2 linked regions of the Homo sapiens genome follow. The protein of the gene in region 2 purifies or fractionates together with the protein of the main gene of each other region. This does not show direct contact. Each region holds a gene or a part of one and is shown on either strand. Other genes may lie near its edges.

What was found.
Region 1: the proteins of NYX (region 2) and AMD1 purify together in Homo sapiens (affinity purification with mass spectrometry, with the first as the bait; one large-scale study listed by BioGRID). This does not show direct contact.

The regions. Positions count from the first base shown.
Region 1 is NC_000006.12:110,891,536-110,894,072, reverse strand, and holds part of AMD1 (S-adenosylmethionine decarboxylase proenzyme), read right to left. Parts: intron 1,913-2,537; coding exon 1,870-1,912; intron 1,775-1,869; coding exon 1,630-1,774; intron 1,339-1,629; coding exon 1,246-1,338; intron 1,164-1,245; coding exon 1,008-1,163; intron 598-1,007; coding exon 457-597; 3' UTR 1-456.
Region 2 is NC_000023.11:41,445,973-41,450,372, reverse strand, and holds the start of NYX (nyctalopin precursor), read right to left. Parts: upstream 3,031-4,400; 5' UTR 2,857-3,030; exon of another isoform or gene 2,525-2,856; 5' UTR 2,469-2,524; coding exon 2,447-2,468; intron 1-2,446.

The sequences.
Region 1 (2,537 bases), on a different chromosome or scaffold from region 2:
GAGGTAACTGGATGTAAAATTCTGGCAGCAATTTAATAGAACAGTCCTAGAGGGTTAGGCTGAGGCCAACACCTAATGAGGACGAAAGCCTTGTCTGTGGGGAATTTTGGATGATACTTGGAGAAATATTACACTGTGCATAAACCAAATTGAGTTGCTTTCACAAGTGTTGTAAAGTTTCATATAGTAAAAGGTTTTTTCTACATGCACTTCAATTTCACAGCAAGAGTGGCAGAGAATACCTAAACACAGAAGAGAGCATTCATGCAAGATATCTAACTCCTTGATATAATAATGCATACAATTCAAAATGATTACACTATCATTACATCTAGGGCTTTCTGCAACTACACAGTGGTGGTTATGGAAAGCACTGCCCCCAGCATCGACATCTAGAAAGCATCCACCACCTTCTACATGTGTTCTCTTTTTGCGTTTTTTCTTCATTTTTCTTAATCAACTCTGCTGTTGTTGCTGCTTCTTAGCAAAACTGGTAAAAACAAAATTGTAATCATTGAACATAGCACTCTGGCAATCAAGACGCTTAAAACCTTCAATCTTCTGGGGCGAAGCAAGCACTGTGCGACATTTAGAACTCTGGGGGAAAAAATTAAATAACCGTTAGTGTTTGCAATCCAGAGAAGTATTTTCAACCAAAACAGTTAAGTGACAGACTTTTATCTTAATGAAACTAAGACATCTGAGTTATTTTAGCTGCCTTCTTATGTGCTGGAGGGGCCAGGGCATCTTATGGTTCCTCCCACCAGAGGCCTGTCAATAGCAAGACAGGAGGAACCCATCAGTTTGGCTAGACAGAAAACAAGGACTGACACAGGTCTAATGAAACAAAGCTTCTCAGCTACCAGTAACCTCAAACAATATTACTTCTGGATATCTGAGTGGCTGGTATATGTGCTATCTCAGAATACATCTTAGGCCTCACTGTCTCATTTCCTTTAAGATTTTAAAAATCAAATAACCTGATTAATAATAAAATATAAAATTACCTGATTAACAAACAAGGTGGTCACAAATTTTCCTGGCTTGAAGACTTCTACAACTTTCCTGATCAGGTCATCATAGGAGGTCTGACTTAAGTTTGTTTCAAAGCTAACATAAGAAAATTCTGGTTCTGGAGTGATGTGAATAGTCCAATAAGTTCCCTGAGAGAAAAAGTTCACAGTGTTAAGAATGGAAAGACTATTCACATTTAAATAATTATTGAAGCAATATATAACTACTCACATCCGATTTCATTCCATTCATCGAATACCCACAAGGATTGAACATTGTGGCATCAATGACAGAACCTGGTATCAGGTCACGAATTCCACTCTCCTGGGGGGGGAAAAAGACCGAGTTTAACAAGGGTTTGACAAATAAACTTCAATTGAGTCCAAAATTTAGTCCCAGGGTGGGAGAAGGGAGAGGACCAGGAAAAATAACTAATGGGTACTAGGCTTAACACCTGGGTGACGAAATACTGTGTACGACAAACCCCCATGACACAAGTTTACCTATGTAACAAACTAGCACTTGTTACCCTGAACTTAAAAGTTACAGAATGAAAAATAAAATTTAGTCCCCACGCAGAAGAGTCCAGCAACAATTATTACTAAAAATGCTTACACGAGTGACATCCTTTGCAGTAACACCATCTTTCATGTAGAACTGGTCCATAACTGCTGGGTCAAGCTCACTCATCAGAATTTCCAAGGTTTGATCTGGCTGACTGATTACCCGACTCTCTGGGAAATCCAGAGTATATAAGTACCTAAATAAAAATTAAAAATAGTTCCTAAAAATGACAATTGGCAGTTTAAATCTTACATAGGACAACAAAAATCCACAAAATTGCATTAAACATACCAACAGTCAGAATTCATACGTCCCATACAATATGCTGCTCCATCTGTTGAGGGAAGAGAACGCAAAATAAATATAACACATCCATTTAATAGGATGGTTTGTTACTACCCTTCCACAATAAGCAGAATGATACTATTTGCCACTTATTAGAAATGTCATCCATCAGTGGACTGGGCATAGTAGCTCATGTCTATAATCCCACCCCTTTTGGCAGGGAGGCAGAGGTGGGCTTGAGGTCAAGAGTTCGAGCCTGGCCAACATGATGAAACCCCATCGCTACTAAAAATACAAAAAGTAGCTGGGCGTGTTGGCACATGCCTATAATCCCAGCTACTTGGGAGGCTGAGGCAGGAGAACTGCTTGAACCCGGGAGGCGGAGGTTGCAGTGAGCCAAGATCACGCCACTCCACTCCAGCCTGGGTGACAAAGCGAGACGCCATCTCAAGAAAAAAGAAATGTCATCAGTGAAAGGAATGGAAACAGTAGGTAAATTCCCAGATAAGCAGGATCGACTGACTTGGCGGGTATTTGCAGTAAATACCCAACACTCTGATTAGCCTGGTTTGGTTTCATATTAGTAGATGTGCTAAGTTCAATTTTCATGCTTATGAGCGACTTTGTGCAAAGTTACTAAATTATCTTAGGTTTTCAGCCTTATCTAGGAAGTA
Region 2 (4,400 bases):
CCCGGGAGGCAGAGGTTGCAGTGAGCTGAGATCATGCCACTGCACTCCAGCCTGGGCAACAGAGCGAGACCCTGTCTCAAAAGAAACACACACAAAAAACACAAACACACAACCCCTGACTCTCTTTGAAGACTCAGTGTAGAGGAAGTCACATGTGAAAGACCCTGTAAAAGAAGTTAAGGGTTTCAGATATTATGCTGTGAACAGCGGGAAGACCCCAGGGGTTAACATGGGGGGAGGAGGTGGAGGTATTTGCACTTATGCATCTGAGAAGTGGGGCACTTCCAGGAGCCCTGTGTGTCCAGAGGAGAATTTCTCTTGCCCCAAATTTCCCTGCTGCGAGCCACTTCTGATTTCTCCAAGGTGTTGTTTTGTGAGGCTCACTTAGTCATTTTCTTTCTGGCCAAGGAGGTAGAGCACTATCCCTGCCTGCTTCTCGGGAACATATTGTCCGTATTGCTTGTGACTCGCAGTCAGAGAAATATTCTCTGTGCTTGCTAGAGTGTGTTTTAAATTAAAGTGCCAGGGGATGTGGAGATGGTCATTAATTTTAAGTGCATCTATTGTTAGCAAATGATGTCACCGCTGAGCTCTCCAACTTGTCACAAGAAGTCTGGATATATTTCGGGTTTCTGTAGCAGGGACAGTTCCTGTTTTGAAGTGTGCAGGCTATGAATACGGTCTGCTTTCTGTGAGGAACGGTAGAGCTTTTGGTGCACGTTTAAAATGATACTGGCTGTTGGAAGCAAACATTGTGCCCCAATGAGTCAATCAAGTTTCATTTTTTTTTCAAGGTAGGAGGAATGGCAAGAAGTTGACTGTTAGTAATTATATAAATATCAACCTCTGTTCTTTAGAACCTCTTCGAGGTAGGAAGTCATGTCCTATTTATCACAGTGTTCCACGTGCCTTGCTCCAATTTTTTTTATTGCTTATTTATTGAATCTCTTATAAAAGAATTTTCTCAAAGACAAAGAGCATGCTATTATATCCCTCATAAATATCTCTCGAGCGTTTTGAAGGCACACAGTGTATGCCTGTTGGTTGACTGAACAGAGCAAGTTCCGGTTTTTGAAAAGGTGGAATAAAGAGGAAGAAAACTCCATTACTCCTGTTTTAGATGATCTGGTAAAATGTTCTCTATCAGCATCGCATACAGAGGTCTATTACATAGATCATCATATCTCAAATAATTAAATTCACTTGAGGGTCAGAAAAAAACAGATTCTTTGTGTAGAATCATTTACTGAAGAATTTAAAGGATTTTTCCTTGGGCTATCTCAGTCAGATTGGAACAGCTAGAGCCAGGGAAAATATTTCATAACGAGTCTTCTTGGTATATTAAAGTGCACATAACAGAGCGAGAAACTTTGAAAAATAACTTCAATATCCATAATCCTATAATTCCAAGGCATTTTTCATTTTTTCTTTTTCCTTTAGGAAGGTGGTTTTTTAAAGGGACTTTTGTTTTTAACTAAATGAGCTTAAAATAATGTGATTAGAAACCACTGTAGGCTGGGCACGGTGGTTCATGCCTGCAATCCCAGCACTTTGGGAGGCCGAGACAGGCAGATCACCTGAGGTCAGGAGTTCAAGACCAGCCTGGGCAATATGGCGAAACCCCGTCTTTACTAACAATACAAAAAATTAGCTGGGCGTGGTGGCAGGTGCCTATAGTTCCAGCTACTCAGGAGGCTGAGGCACGAGAATCACTTGAACCCGGGAGGCGGAGGTTGCAGTGAGCCAAGATCCATGCCACTGCTCCCCAGCTTGGGCGAGAGTGAGACTCTGTCTCAAAAAAAAAAAAAAAGAAAAGAAAAGAAAAGAAAAAACCACCGTACGGTGGCTCACGCCTGTAATCCCAGCACTTTGGGAGGCCGAGGCGGGCAGATCACGAGGTCAGGAGATCGAGACCATCCTGGCTAACATGGTGAAACCCCGTCTCTACTAAAAATACAAAAAATTAGCCAGGCGTGGTGGCGGGCACCTGTACTCCCAGCTACTCGGGAGGCTGAGGCAGGAGAATGGCGTGAACCCGGGAGGCGGAGCTTGCAGTGTGCCGAGGTCGCACCACTGTACTCCAGCCTGGGTGACAGAGCGAGACTCCATCTCCAAAAACAAAACAAAACAAAAAAACACTGTAGCACTGTAGCTTTTGGTTATCACACCAATGAATTCATATCTGAAATTAGAATAAGAAAATCACCAAGAGGACTATTTCATATATTCGGCTCAGGAGTTTTGTTTTTAGGAAACAAAAATCCCCACCACCTGCTGTTTTCTTGCTTTCTCTATCCCCTCCCCCACGATCACAGGGTCAGTGAAACCTGATCAGAAGTGTCCAGATACCGCTGTCCCAGAAGCCACTTTAAAGACTCTTTGGGCAGAAGCTCTGTGGCTTCCACCCCTCTTCCCAACCCTTGCACCCACCGGCAGGAGAACTCACCATGCAGAAGCAGGACCAACATCCCTCGGCCTTTCATCCACCCAGTGGCTTAGGACCACCCAGCCGTGGGACCCCTACCTGAGGGGAGAAAGGACAGGTCACCCAGTGCCCAGGAGGGCCCCATGAGAACCCTCCCATGCCTCCACACTTCTTCCTGAATGCCCTGCCTTTCTTTCTTCCTCACATTCCTTCCTTCTTAATGACCCTGGTGTTGGGCTAAGGGAAACCAGTAACAACAGAAAATCAGAAGCTCCCCACAAATGGACAGTTTGGATCTATTAGGAAACCCTTTGTCAGGCTACAGCCCTGACAGCAACTCAGATGGCATCACTGACAACCCAGCAAGGAAATGGATGGAGAGGAAACCCCTGCAGAGAAGCGTTAGTGAATGGTCCTCAAATGTTGCTTACCGTCCTGGGAGTCTCCCTGGTCCTGCTCCTCTGAGGTCCCCCTCCACTCCCTCAGCCCATCCATCTCCCAAGTCAGGCAGCCACAGATGCTGAAAATGGTTTGAGAGAGAAGTAAAGGTGGGGGTGGGGGGACGGGAGGAAGGGGTGAAGAGGAATAGTTACTTGTGCAGGTTTGAGTGCTTATTTTTCTTTCTCCAGATTTAATGGCAGGAAAATCCTCTGTATCACATGAGGATTAACAGAGATGAAAGAATGTGTCTGCCTTTCGAATCACTAAAGCCAGTGACAGATTTTGCTGACATACCAATCGGCTTTATCCCCGGGCCTTGACCACCCTGGCCCTCCTGTCCTCTCTCCATCTGCCTGGCCCCTTTCTCTCCTTAAACCTTCCCCAGACCCTGCCCCGTTCCCTGACCCCAGCCCCAGCCCCAAGCAATATGTAGCCTGAAATTGGCTTCCTGCCACCCAAACAGCATTATCAGCATTTTCAACAAGGACGCATTATATAACTTGGAGAGCTGGAGAAGGGACAGGACAGCTTAAAATGTTTCCCCAAAATGCCGGCTGCTGATTTCCTTTCTTTGAAGTGGTTGATGGTGAATGATACAAAAACGGACTGGAGAGAGTCCTTCCACTACAAGAAGGCAAGAGGTTCCCACTGGGGTTAGGGCTGGTAGTGGTGGCCTAAGGCAGTGGGTCCAGGAATGGGACCTTCAGAATCTGGCTGAGGTTTCTGAAACCCACCAGGACTCAGTTTAGGCCCTGGCTACTCAGTGTGGCCGGTGGACCAGCAGCAGTACCTGAGAGCTCGTTAGGAAAACAGAATCTCAGCGCCTTCTACCCCCCGCCCCAGACCTGTTGAATCAGCATCTGCTTTTTTTTTTTTTTTTTTTTTTTTGAGATGGAGTCTCACTCTGTCGCCCAGGCTGGAGTGCAGTGGCACAATCTTGGCTCACTGCAACCTCCACCTTCTGGGTTCAAGCGATTCCCCTGCCTCAGCTTCCTGAGTAGCTGGGACTACACCATGCCCAGCTAATTTTTTGTATTTTTAGTAGAGACGGGGTTTCACCATGTTGACCAGGATGGTCTTGATCTCTTGACCTTGTGATCCACCCGCCTCGGCCTCCCAGAGTGCTGGGATTACAGGCGTGAACCACCGCGCCCGGCCAGCATCTGCATTTTAACTAGGTCGGCGGAGAGGGGGATTCCTGTGCCCGGTAAAGTTTGGAAAGCCCTGTTTTAGGAGACTGGTGGAGGGGGTCTGATCAAAATGAGGGTGGCAGGGGGGCCTGTTTATCTAGCCTTTCTGGCCAGCAGTTCAGGTGCCCCCACATTCTCCTGGCCCCAGCAAGCCTCTGCTGTCTGCTGGGACAGCACTTCCAGGTATCCATGGCAACCTGCCAAGTTCTGGCCACGCAGGACTTGGTGAGCCAGTGCTGATGAAAGGAAGCCAGGAGTTCCCTTCCCACAGAAAGGGTTCTGGATGTGAATCTAGACATCTCAGGCCACCGTGCCCTGGGGAATTTTTGTTTTCTTCCATTTGA